Regions from separate parts of the Homo sapiens genome. Here all the other regions are linked to region 3. Evidence: fine-mapped expression QTL. A gene starts in region 3. Each other region holds a variant in brackets. All regions are shown on one strand. Distances are between the middles of the regions.

Region 1 (4,240 bases), 79 kb after region 3:
GCCTGGTTTGCAGATGAAAGGGGCTTCAACTTTTATTATAATTTCATTTTGTATATTAAAGCACCTACACATAAAAATTTTAAAGGTAACTAAATACTTCATGTACATTTTCAGAATTGTTACAGTGCAAGAGAAAGTTCTTAGCCTATCCTTACTTTTCTATACTCAAAACACACACACACACACACACACACACACACACACACAAACAATAAAACTGTTTTTTTGTTTTGTTTTATTTGTTTGTTTGAGATGGAGTTTTGCTCTTGTTGCCAAGGCTGGAGTGCAATGGTGCAATCTCGGTTCACTGCAACCTCCGCCTCCCGGGTTCAAGCGATTCTCCTGCCTCAGCCTCCCGAGTAGCTGGGATTACAGGTGCCCGCCACCACACCCAGCTAATTTTTTTATATTTTTAGTAAAGATGGGGTTTCACTACATTGGCCAGGCTGGTCTCAAACTCCTGACCTTAGGTGATCCACCCACCTCAGCCTCCCAAAGTGTTGGGATTACAGGCATGAGCCACTGCACCTGGCTCTGTTTTGTTTGTTTTTGAGACAGAGTCTCGCTCTGTCGCCCAGGCTGGAGTGCAATGACTCGATTTCGGCTCACTGAAACCTTTGCTTCCTGGGTTCAAGCGATTCTCCTGCCTCAGCCTCCCGAGTAGCTGGGATTATAGGTGCCCGCCACCACACCCGGCTAATTATTGTATTTTTAGTAAAGATGGGGTTTCACTGTGTTGGCCACACTGATCTCGAACTCCTGACCTCAGGTGATCCACCGCCTCGGCCTCCCAAAGTGCTGAGATTAGAGGCGTAAGCCACCGTGCCCATCCAATAAAACTGGTTTTTAAAAACTCTTGGCCAGGGCTGGGTGTGTTCTCGGGAGGCTGAGGCAGGAGAATTGCTTGAACCTGGGAGGCAGAGAGGTTTCAGTGAGCTGAGATCATGCCACTACACTCCAGCCTGGCGACAGAGCCAGACTCTGTCTCAAAAACAAACAAACAAAAACAAACTCTTGGCCGGGTGCAGTGGCTCATGCCTGTTAATCCCAGCACTTTGGGAGCCTGAGGTGGGCAGATCACTTGAGGTCAGGAGTTCTAGACCAGCCTGGCCAAAACGGTGAAACTCCACCCCTACTAAAAATATAAAAATTAGCCGGCCGTGGTGGTGGATGCCTGTAATTCCAGCTACTCAGGAGGCTGAGGCAGGAGAATCGCTTGAACCTGGGAGGCGGAGGTTGCAGTGAGCCAAGATCGTGCCACTGCACTCAAGCCTGGGCAACAGAGTGAGACTCCATCTCAAAAACAAAAACAAAAACAAAACTCTTATATTCCTCTATTTCTCAAATCTTTCAAATAGACACTGTGGATACTGGCATACCCACTTCCTTCTCTAATACTAACAGAACCCTGTTGATTACATTATAGTCCTCAAATAAAAACTGTGACATAGTTATTGAGAGAAATCTCCTCCTCCTCAATTACTGAGAAAACTACATTCAACTAACCTTCTAGCACTGCCTACTTCCCTTCATTCAGCAGTGAATGAATTGGGCAGCTATTCTGTGGACTTATTTTCTTTCACCCTAGAGAAAAGGCGTGGGACAATTTCTAAATAAAAATGTTTCTTAAATTCCTGGCTTAAGTAATACCATGAAATATACCACTTATTATATACCCAATACAATGTAAAAATGGGATATCCATGTAATACTATCATTATTTTTTGCTTAAAAAATAAATAATTAAATTTATTTATAAATATAAACGCACAGAAAAAAGTTACCTGTAGTTTTCTCTGAGTGGAAGGATTGACTAGAGGTAAATAAAAGGGTTTTTTTTTTTTAACTGTGCATTTGTATCATCTGATTTCCCTACAATGCAAGTAGAAACGTTTAAATGTTTCAAAAAAGCATCCCATACCATCATTGACTCGATAACATAAGTTACACTTCCATCTCCTTTGATCAAGAAAGCTGACGAAAGGATTGATGTACGTCCTGCATGAACGGCATCTCACAATTGTACTGGAGGTAACCACAGGCAATTGCTGGAAAAAAAAAAACAGAATTAAATTTTTAAAGGCAAAAATCATCATGTTGAAAACATAAGCATGAATCCATCCTGTCTAAATAACTGTTGGGATATTATCATTTTAGAGAAAACTTAGAGTACAAGATGTATCTAAACTGCCATACACAAAAACCATGTAGTTGAAATGTATTAATTTTAAACCCTACTATTTTGCTCCAAGACCATTCTCATTAAAAGTTGTCTTAAAAAAAAAAATTATTGGCTGGGGACAGTGGCTCACATGTGTAACTCCAGCACTTTGGGAGCCAAGGCGGAAGGA[T/C]TGCTTGAGGCCAGGAGTTTGAGACCGGCCTGGGCAACATAGTGAAACATGACCCTCTCAAAAGATTTAAAAAATTAGCCCAGTGTGGTGAGCTGGGTTGAAGTGGGAGCATCACTTGAGCCTGGGAGGTCAAGGCTGCAGTGAGCCATGACTGAGCCACTGCACTCCAACATGGGCAACAGAGCAAGACCCAGTCTCAAAAAATAAAATAAAATAAAAATGTAAAAACCATTTTTTTCCTCATTAAACACTCATATTGCAAAACCAAAATAGCAGGCCAGGCACAGTGGCTAACACCTATGTCTAAAATCCCAGCACTCTGGTGGGAGGCCAAGGCAGGAAGATTACTTGAGGCCAGGAGTTTGAGACCAACCTGGGCAAGAAAGTAAGACCCTGTCTCTATTTTAAAAATAAAAATAGGCTGGGCGTGGTGGCTCATGCCTGTAATCCCAGCACTTTGGGAGGCCAAGGCGGGTGGAACGCGAGGTCAGGAGTTCAAGACCAGCCTGGCCAACGTGGTGAAACCTCGTCTATACTAAAAATACAAAAATTAGCTAGGCGTAGTGGCAGGTGCCTATAATCCCAGCTACTCAGGAGGCTGAGGCAGGAGAATTGCTTCAACCCTGGGAGGCAGAGGTTGCAGTGAGCCAAGATTACACCACTGTACTCCAGCCTGGGCAACAGAGCAAGACTCCATCTTGGAAATAAATTAAAAAAATATATATATATATATCCCAGTGCTTTGGAAGGCCAAAGCAGGAGGATCACTTGAGGCTGGGAGGTAGAGACCAACCTGAGCAACACAGCAACAGCCCATCTCTACCAAAAAAAAAGAGTTTTTAAATAAATAAATAATAAGTTAAAAAAATAAAACCAAGATGGTAAATTTACAATGTACTTTTGGCATAAATGGCAAAGAAAAAAAAATCAACATTCTAAAATATATGACCAATGAAACTATTACAAAGTTTGTTGATGTTACATTAAGAAGCTTACTTAGTTCTCAACTATAATAAAGTAAGGTGAGGTTAATTTAAATAACCAGTTAAACTTTGGAATTACACTCCTAGTTAAAGTTTATCCTACATATTAAAAGTTCTAAAGTCTTAGCTGGGTATAGTGGCCAATGCCTACAGTACCACTTACTCTGTCTGGAGGCTGAGGCAGGAGGACTGCTTGAGCCCAAGAGTTCAAGGCTGCAGTGAGCTATGATCATGGAACTGCACTCTAACCTGGGTGACAACGAGAGACCCGGTCTCTAATAAATAAATAAATAAATAACAGTAAATACGTGGGAAGGGTCTTTGTAAGACTATCAGATTTGGGGAGATTTGTTTTGATTTACCAGAAACCCTGAGACAGGTGAACACTGATCAACTTAACTGAGAGCCAGTGCCTTGGACAACAAAGTGACATAGCATCTCATCTTTAAAGAAAGGTTTTATTTATCTTTTTTTTTTTTTTTGAGACAGTCTCACTCTATTGCCCAGACTGGAGTACAGTGTGGGATCTTGGCTCACTGCAACCTCCACCTCCCGGGTTCAAGCGATTCCCTTGCCTCAGCCTCCCCAGTAGCTGGGATTATAGGTGTGCATCACCATGCTTGGCTAAATTTTCTATTTCTGGTAGAGACGAGTTTCACCACGTTGGCCAGGCTGGTCTTGAATTCCTGACCTCAGGTGATCTGCCCGCCTCAGCCTCCCAAAGTGCTAGGATTACAGGTGTGAGCCACTGCACCTGGCCTTTATTTTTTTTTTTTAAGATAAGGATCTCATACCCAATCCTGGGCAATGCAGTTAAGACTCTGCTTCTTAAAAAAAAAAAAAAAAATCAATACAGGCAATAAAATTATATCACCACCAAAAAAATCCTATCACCAAAAGTAGTGT
Region 2 (4,240 bases), 190 kb before region 3:
CAATCACATAAACACTGTCTAGTGCACCAAGTAAAGGCATTCTTTGCCACAGAACATGATTACATGTCTCACCAAGACTTTCACGTGGAACACTGTTAACTGTTCTAGCCGCTGCAAAGGAAACGTCAGATTTTAATTGTAGGCAACACAAGAATATTCTCAACTAAACTGTGAGGAACAGATCCAACCAAAGATGTATTTAATCCATGCTTTTTTTCTCTGGACTGTCAGACATATTTTTAGCACACTGGTCAACTAAGTTCAGTTCCTAGCTCTGCTATTCACTAGCTATATGACCTCAGAAAAGTTACTTAACTTTTGAAACGAGTTTCAGTTTCCCCATACGTAAAAGGAGCTAATTCATGTAATATACTTTACAGTATGCCTGGCACTCTATTAAGAACTCAGTTAATGCTAGTGATTATTATCATCATCAATAACACTTTGATATTATAGTGTCTGTGGCCTGGAAAGGAAGAATTCCTTTCCAAACCTAGCAGAAGACCAATTTGAAGGCCAAAGAAATTCACCTTTACAAGGCTCAGAAAACCAGAAACATCTTTAGCACTGTTTCTCTGAGTGGGTGTCGGCACGGGAAGATTTCCTTGCGGAACTGGCAATCTGTCAGCGAGCATCTCAGCCAAGCAGGTGACTCATGTCTCCCTGAGGAAGTGGGGCTAAAGGCCTGCTTGAGGACCATTCCCTGTGCAGTCCCTTGTGTGTCTGGGGGCAGACACAACTCCCACCAATCCTAAGCCACTAGTCTACTTGCCATCTACTTGATCCGCCACAGAGCTCAACATTTCCAATAACTCAGGCCAAGAATATCCAACTATGAAATTAAAACTGGCTTCTCCAGGCACTGAAGACAACATCCACAAGCTACTGAAAAAGCTGCCTGCTCTTCCAGGCCCCAGACGAAATGAGTCCCCCTTAGCTCATGGTAATAAGTACATTTTTTAAATGTCACTGAACAGGTCAACACCTGTGAGATAGCATGCTCACTTCTAAACACTGCTTTCAAAAGCTGTTTTCATACTGTAGCATTTTAGAGCCTTTTAAAAAAAAAAAAAAAAGCTTCAAGTCACTATTCTTGGCAATTGCCATAATAGCCTACACAGCCAATTGAAAAAATATGGCAACTCTTTAGCTAATGACATGGTACCATCTTCAACATATACTGTTAAATGAAAAGCAAGGTGCAAAACAACTTTCTTTTGCAGAATTAGGACTTTCAATACATCAGTAAATTTCTACTGAATTCCCAGGCTAGGAAAACTCCTCTTAGATAGGAGTATATTAATATAAATCCACTATTCTCCAGGTGGCAGGGTTTACATCCACAAAAAAAAACTCTACACACGATTTTACCAAAAGGCCCTTCATTTCTGTTTCATTTTTAGTGAAAGTTCTCTAACTAGATAGAGTTCACACAGCTGATGTATACCAAAAAGACATTCTGGCCAAGGTGATCACTAGCTATGAGTATCTTTTCCCTGAAGAGACACTACCGGTTTCCAAATTCCTCTGCACCTAAGTTTAAATTCATTTCGCCATATCTTCATCAGCTACTATTGGGCAGACCAATTGCCCAGTCTGATTAGCTCTTTCTTAAATTTCTCACAATCTTTCAGTTTTGAATTAGCACATTTCACCAGTTTTCTACCCATTCTTTTCTCCTAAAGCAAACAGAAGCACTGGTTTTAAAACCACCCCAAGAGAAGCCCCTTACCAGAGTTCCCTGGTGTCAAAATAACTTGTGATGCTTTGCAATTCACTGGGGCTGTTCATTATTGCCAATCAGCTGCCTCAGAAAAGTCCTGTTGGAGGTTTTCTTCCCTAATCTGCTGATAATCCTTATTTGTTGGCTTTCAGAGTCTTATGAGGTGAGAGGTATTGCAAAGATTACCAAAGTTTAGTTAGTTTTGTTTTAGCAATCCTTTTAAAAATTGTATTTAAGCTCCTTGGTACTGTCATCATTATAAAATTATAAGAAATTCTACTTTATATAAAAAAAAAA[C/AC]GACTTCATAGGCTTCAACTTTGTGCTTCCGAACCACTAAGATACACAAAGTACCTGCCCAAATATATTTTTAAAAATTGAGGTCAGGGGGCCGAGCGCGGTGGCTCACATCTGTAATCTCAGCACTTTGGGAGGCCGAGGCGGGTGGATCATAAGGTCAGGAGATCAAGACAATCCTGGCTAACATGGTGAAACCCTGTCTCTACTAAAAATACAAAAAATTAGCCAGGCGTGGTAGTGGGCACCTGTAGTGCCACCTACTCGGGAGGCTGAGGCAGGAGAATGGCATGAACCCAGGAGCTTGCAGTGAGCCAAGACTGCGCCACTGCACTCCAGCCTGGGTGACAGAGCGAGACTCCGTCTCAAAAAAAAAAAAAAAAAAAAAATTGAGGCCGGGCGCGATGGCTGTAACCCCAGCACTTTGGGAGACCAAGGCAGGCAGATTACCTGAGGTCAGGGGTTTGAGACCAGCCTGACCAACATGGAGTAAACCCCGTCTCTACTAAAAACACAAAATTAGCCAAGTGTGGTGGCACATGCCTGTAATCCCAGCTACTCGGGAGGCTGAGGCAGGATAATCGCTTGAACCCAGGAGGCAGGGATTGCAATGAGCCATTATCGCACTATGGCACTCCAGCCTGGGCAACAAGAGCAAAACTCCATCTCAAAAAAAAAAAAAATTTTTTTTTTTAATAGCATGCAAAATGACAGTCTACTCCCTAACTTTTCTTCTTTATAATCAACTGGTTCCTTTCAGGAGACATAACTACTACTAACACTACATAATTCCAGTTTATATATGACATAAAACTATCTTGCCCTATTACTGTAATAAAAATAATTTCTATGGATCTAGTTTTAAAGAGAGAGAAGGCAAAAGGGCTTCTGCTTAAGTTGGGATGTGTTAAGCTGAAAGTCAAGATGCTACAATAACAACCAAAAGGGTGGAGGAAGAGAACAAGTGCTCTGGGCAGAAAGAATGCCTACTCCCCCATCATCTGTGGGGCAGCCACAGCGACTCAAAAAATATTTTAAGGAAACAAAGCAACACCTAAGTTTGGCTTAGTGGTACAGTAAATACATTTTCTATAAGCAGTACACATTTTGTAAAATAGAGTATCATCCCATTTCACATCACAAAATATCTGATGTTCTAAAGCAGTTGCACACCATCAATGAAATCATGTTTATCCTTTCTTTTGCTTATTTTTAAACTGGGAATCCATTCCCCTTTTAAAAGTTTTTAAAGCACAGTTTCTGCAACATTTGCTAATATTTTCTGCAAGAAAAGTACATCATCCAAATATTAGCTCCTGGTAACTCCACAGAGGAACTTCAGTGATAAACGGCAGCAATGTGTCCATGGAAGAAAAAAGCCTGCCAGAGCCATGTTTCAGAAAACTGTGTCAAGCAAGAAGCCCAGCAAAGAAACCGTCTCATAAGTTGTCTGTATTTGTTTCAAAATCCACACACAGGTTGCAAACTTGGAATAGTCCCTGAACCTGTGAGAATCTTCAGACATCGAGCTGAAGGAAACCACAAATATATTCAGGATTTATCCTTAACCTGTTATTTTTCTCTCCTTAAGCCTACCCAACCTATAAGGGTAGGCTTAAGGAGAGAAACATTCCTACCCTTATAGATGGAAAGTAGGGATTTTTTGTTTTTGTTTTAAACAATCTTATTTAAGTATATTTATTTATTTAATAATAATTTTAATTATTTGTTAAAGAAAAATACCAGGGCTTATAGCCACAAAGAAAGGAAAGTAAGCTTAGCACTTAAACCCTATTTTTGGTATCAAAGACAAAGTCTGGTGGGTGGTATCCTTATATCCTGAAAAATGCTAATCCTAGCTATGTCTCATTCTATGGCCTTCAGCAAATCCTAAACCTCTCTTGCCTCTACTACTCTGTAAATCTGAGGCTCTGTTACTTCTTAACATCACTACTGGGTGTGAGGAGGTCTCACAAAAATGCACAGTGCTTTGCGCAGAAAATGTGCTTCTTTGGGACACTGAAGCGGTTCCAATTTGCTGGAATCATACATAAAGTAATTTTATGCCACTTTTTTAAAATCTAGAAAATTTGTTCTGTGTAGCCAAACTTAGCTGAATCTTGAATATAAATGAAAAATTTTAAGTCTCTGTGTCAAAAATTCACAAATTATGCTAGTAATTCAGAAAATAGCAATGAAGAGAGAAAACATTTAAAATAATAA
Region 3 (4,240 bases):
GGCGGGTGGATCACAAGGTCAGGAGATCGAGACCACCCTGGCTAACACGGTGAAACCCCGTCTCTACTAAAAAATACAAAAATTAGCCTGACGCGGTGGCAGGCGCCTGTAGTTCCAGCTACTCGGGAGGCTGAGGCAGGAGAATGGCGTGAACCCTGGAGGCGGAGCTTGCAGTGAGCCGAGATCCCACCACTGCACTCCAGCCTGGCGAAAGAGCGAGACTCTGTCTCAAAAACAAAAACAAAAACAAAAAAACAACCAAGTAATACCAATTTCACCTCTGTAATTCCCTTCACATTATATCACCTCCACAGAGTTCCAACCGTCACTATTCTATATCAGACATATCTACCTAGGAGATTCTTAAAGACTGTAGTCTTCCTGTTTCTATTACTTTTCCATTAAATCTTACTCATTGCTGCTAAGGAGAATTCTGATTCTATTACACACTTTTTACTCAAAATCTTCAAAGGTTCACAAACAAATTCTGATCTTCAAAATCTACAATCCACCCGCTTTCTGGGCCCAAGTCCTATTCAGGACCTACCTCCTACTACTTCTCAAAAAAGATAAAATCCCTTCATGAAACCTACATATGCAGAAAAATTGGGCTTTTTAGCTATTTCTCTAACACCTTGCGCCTTCCCACCTCTAAGCCTTTCATGATTCCCTGAACAAACCTAGAGCACAGGCCATGCACACCAGAGAGGTAAAGGAGAAGGCTGACGGGCTAGAATGGACCTTCTTGTGAAGGGCCTTGAAGGCTGTCATAGAGTTTAAATTTCATCTTGGAAGCAGTAGAAACCAATGGAGACTAAGTCAGGGGCATGCCATCATCTTATCTCTACTTCAGAAGTGTCACTCTGGCTGTAGTGTAAGGGATCTAACAATTAGGAGAGCAACAGAGGAAGACAATCAATTCAGAGAATCAATTTAAAACAGATGTAGTAGTCTGGACAATAAATAATTAGGGCCTCAATTAAGTCAGGGACAACCAGAATGGGCAAAGGATGTAGAATCTAACAGGCTGTGGGTAGTGAGAGAGAAGAATGAGTCAAATAAATATCACTTTCAGATTTCTGGTCTGGACAGCCTTCCGGAGATTTAAAACACCGTCACAGGAATTTTCTGTAGTTAAAGAAATATTTTTTATCTTCATCCAGGTGATGATTACACGGTTTATATATTTGCTAAATTTCATCAAGCTTTACCCTTACGTTTTGTCCATTTCCCTGATTGTTAATTGTACCTCAACAAAGAACTGTTAGCACTAACAACAAAAGCCTTCATTGTTCCTAGACATAAAATATCTTTCAGTCATTGCTAAATACATAGCAAATAGTCATTTTTAACATAAAAATCTCAAGGTTCCTAACAATCTATCAACAATCTAAAGTTGTGATGAGATCTAATGAGTTCTAATAAGAGCTCATAGTCCACAACTTCAAAAGGACAGAAAAGCAGGTAACAAAGTTACCTGCTTAAATACGAAATCTATTTGCGAAGTAAATGCCCACGCAACAAGTATTTATTGTAGCCCAGTAAAAGCCTAGTCGTGTATAGTGCTGTCGATGCGGTAAAAATGTCTGCCCACACGCTCCTTTCAAGTAACTTGGGAAAAGATCATACGCGCACAAAGAACTAAAATACAGAATGACAGGAGTCGAGGAAATGTTGGAAACGCGAAGCAATAAGCAATCCAACTGGGATCACTTCTGACTGAAGTAATCAGGGCAGGCTCCCTTGAAGTGGCGGGATGTGGTGCCCAATCACTAACGTCCTGGAGGGTTGTTCCCGCTCCAGGGGCTCGAACCCTCTGATGGTAGTGCAGGGGAAGCCGTCGCTGGCCCAAACACAACCATTCCCTCAGCCGAGGTCCCCCAGCCCTTCCAATGCTCGCGGGGCAGCGCTGACCGCACGTGGGGCCGCGCCAGGCCTGGCCCGGCGGCCACCTCAACTCCCGCCTCTTCTCACGACCCCAAGAAGCCGCTCGCCCGCTAGCCCGCTCGGCGCTCTGCCTCACCGTGACTCCCGACCCATGCTGCCGACCGCGGGAATACTGGTGCCCTTGAGTACCACGCACAGGCGAACCGGACAAACAAGGAGGCTGAGCTGCCCTCAACGCCCGGCAAAGACCAGCGCTAAACACTAGCAGCACCTACAGCTGTGGCGGCCATCCCAGCGCGGCCAACGAAAACAGGACGTGCTGGCGCCGGCAGCCGAAGGAAGAGAAAAGCCGACCGGAAGCTGCCGCTCTTCCACAGCGCCCCACCTCGACTGGAGGACGCACAGCGCCGGCCCCATCGAAAGGTGATGCCTTCGCCCCGCCCAGTCTTCCCGGCGCCCGCACCACGCCCGGCTGATTAGTGCGATGGAGCGCAGCGCGTCAGCCTCGCCGGCCCGTGAGGGTGTTTCGCGCCAGAGCCAAAGAGGCGTCCTGGGCAGGCTGATGTCTGCCTTAATTTGCGCTAAATAATGCGGCAACTTTCTCCGTACACGCTCTTTATTCATGTATACATTCACTCATTTATTTATGTTGTCATATGCCAGGCTTGTGCTAGATCCTGGGGAGCTCACAGTCTATCCGGGAAACAGATGACTAAAGCCAGCACAGTGGCTCACGCCTGAAATCCCAGCACTTTGGGAGGCTGAGGCGGGAGGATCTATTGAGCCCAGGAATTCAAGACCTGGGCAACGTAGCCCTCGTCTCTGCAAAGAAAATAGTAATAATAATAGACTTGACTAAAAACACAAGCAGAAGTAATACAGCAAGGAGAGTCCACCATTGGAGACGGATTCAGAAAACACGTTTCCCTTGGAAGTGAACTCTGAGGTGAGATTTGAAGACCCGGTAGGTGTTAACCTAGTAGAGAACAAAGAGCTAAAAATACTTTGGCAAAAGATTAGTTCTCAACATTGCTTGCACTGGGAAGCTTAAAAATAAAACAAAAAAACAAAAAAAGGGCCAGCCATGGTGGCTCATGCCTATAATCCCAGCACTTTGGGAGGCCGAGGCAGGAGGATGGCTTGAGCCCAGGAATTCAAGACCTACCTGGGCAACATAGCGAGACCCTCTACAAAAAATAAGCAAAATAATTAGCCAGGTGTGCTGGCACGCCTGTGGTTCTAGCTACTTGGGAGGCTGAGGTGAGAGGATCATTTGAGCCAGGGAGGCTGAGGCAAGAAGATTACTTGAGCCCAGGAGTTTGAGGCTGCAGTGAGCTATGATGACTCCAGCCTGGGTAGCACAGAGAAATCTCATCTCTAAAATATTAGTAAATAAAATAGAAGCCTGGGTTCCACCCCTATGTTCTGATTTAATTGGCCTGGAGTGCTTCTTGTGCACTGGGAATTTTTAAGCTTCCCAGGTAATTCTGAAGTACAGTCAAGATTGAGAACATTATTCGAGAGTTTGGGCACCAAAAAAATGTATATGTATTGTCTCATGCAACACACACAGAAATGTTGAATTTTTTTTGTTTTTTTTTTTTGAGACGGAGTTTCGCTTTTGTTGCCCAGGCTGGAGTGCAATGGTGAGAGCTCAGCTCACCACAACCTCCACCTCCTGGGTTCAAGCGATTCTCCTGCCTCAGCCTCCCAAGTAGCTGGGATTACAGGCATGCACCACCACCCCAGCTTATTTTGTATTTTTAGTAGAGATGGGGTTTCTCCATGTTGGTCAGGCTGGTCTTGAACTCTCGACCTCAGGAGACCTGCCCGCCTCGGCCTCCCAAAGTGCTGGGATTACAGGCATGAGCCACCGTGCCCGGCCATGTTGAGTTGTTTTTGCAAAAAGCTATAATGGAGTTGGAGAAAGGCTCATATTTTTACTTTACTTGCCTCTGTACTATTTTACTTTCTTACACCTAAAGATGATGGAAAAGTTCTGTGTCTTGATTTTAGTGGTCATTGAATAGATTTGCACATTTTTCAAAATTCACTGAACTGTACCCTTTAACTGTACATGACTTATTGTATGTAAATTTTACCTCAACATAGTTGATTAAAGAAAAAAAGCAAACCAACGAGTGACACTCCAAGATGAGTTTATGCTCCCCACGCCCCCCGTGGCTTGCTGCCCACCTGTGGTAGCTGCGAGAAGCATTGAAGAGGGATAGAGACTGGAGGTTCTGGCAGTCCATGCCAAGGGTAAGAAGGCCTGAGCTAATTAATGAGTGACAGGATGGACACCAAGGAGGGTTAGGAATCCCCCTGTAAATTGTTTGGATGTGGGCTGCAG

Direction of the effects. Positions count from the first base shown, and alleles are read on the strand shown. Sizes are in standard deviations (SD) of each study's normalised expression. Not every link is listed here.
For the expression in monocytes after R848 of the gene that starts at base 2,200 in region 3, C is the high allele of the variant in region 1 and T is the other (large effect, 0.93 SD a copy in Quach 2016).

The links. PIP is the estimated chance that this variant, and not a neighbour inherited with it, causes the effect. A credible set is the group of variants that fine-mapping cannot tell apart.
Region 1: its variant is the best candidate, but not a certain one, in a credible set for the expression of DDX46 in monocytes after R848 (Quach 2016, PIP 0.54).
Region 2: its variant is the best candidate, but not a certain one, in a credible set for the expression of DDX46 in whole blood (INTERVAL, PIP 0.70).

Annotation. Positions count from the first base shown.
Region 1 is chr5:134,677,410-134,681,649 of GRCh38, reverse strand. It overlaps SEC24A (SEC24 homolog A, COPII component), which reads right to left. Exons shown (of 23, transcript NM_021982.3): 8 at 1,922-2,048. Among named protein-coding and RNA genes, the nearest start is that of SEC24A, 31 kb to the right of the region's middle. The variant T/C (reference allele first, on the strand shown) is at 2,352.
Region 2 is chr5:134,945,556-134,949,795 of GRCh38, reverse strand. All of the region lies in intron 2 of PCBD2 (pterin-4 alpha-carbinolamine dehydratase 2), which reads right to left. Among named protein-coding and RNA genes, the nearest start is that of CATSPER3, 20 kb to the left of the region's middle. The variant C/AC (reference allele first, on the strand shown) is at 2,021.
Region 3 is chr5:134,756,739-134,760,978 of GRCh38, reverse strand. It overlaps DDX46 (DEAD-box helicase 46), which reads right to left and starts at 2,200. Exons shown (of 23, transcript NM_001300860.2): 1 at 2,024-2,200. The coding sequence starts at 2,040. RefSeq lists an enhancer at 1,936-2,425.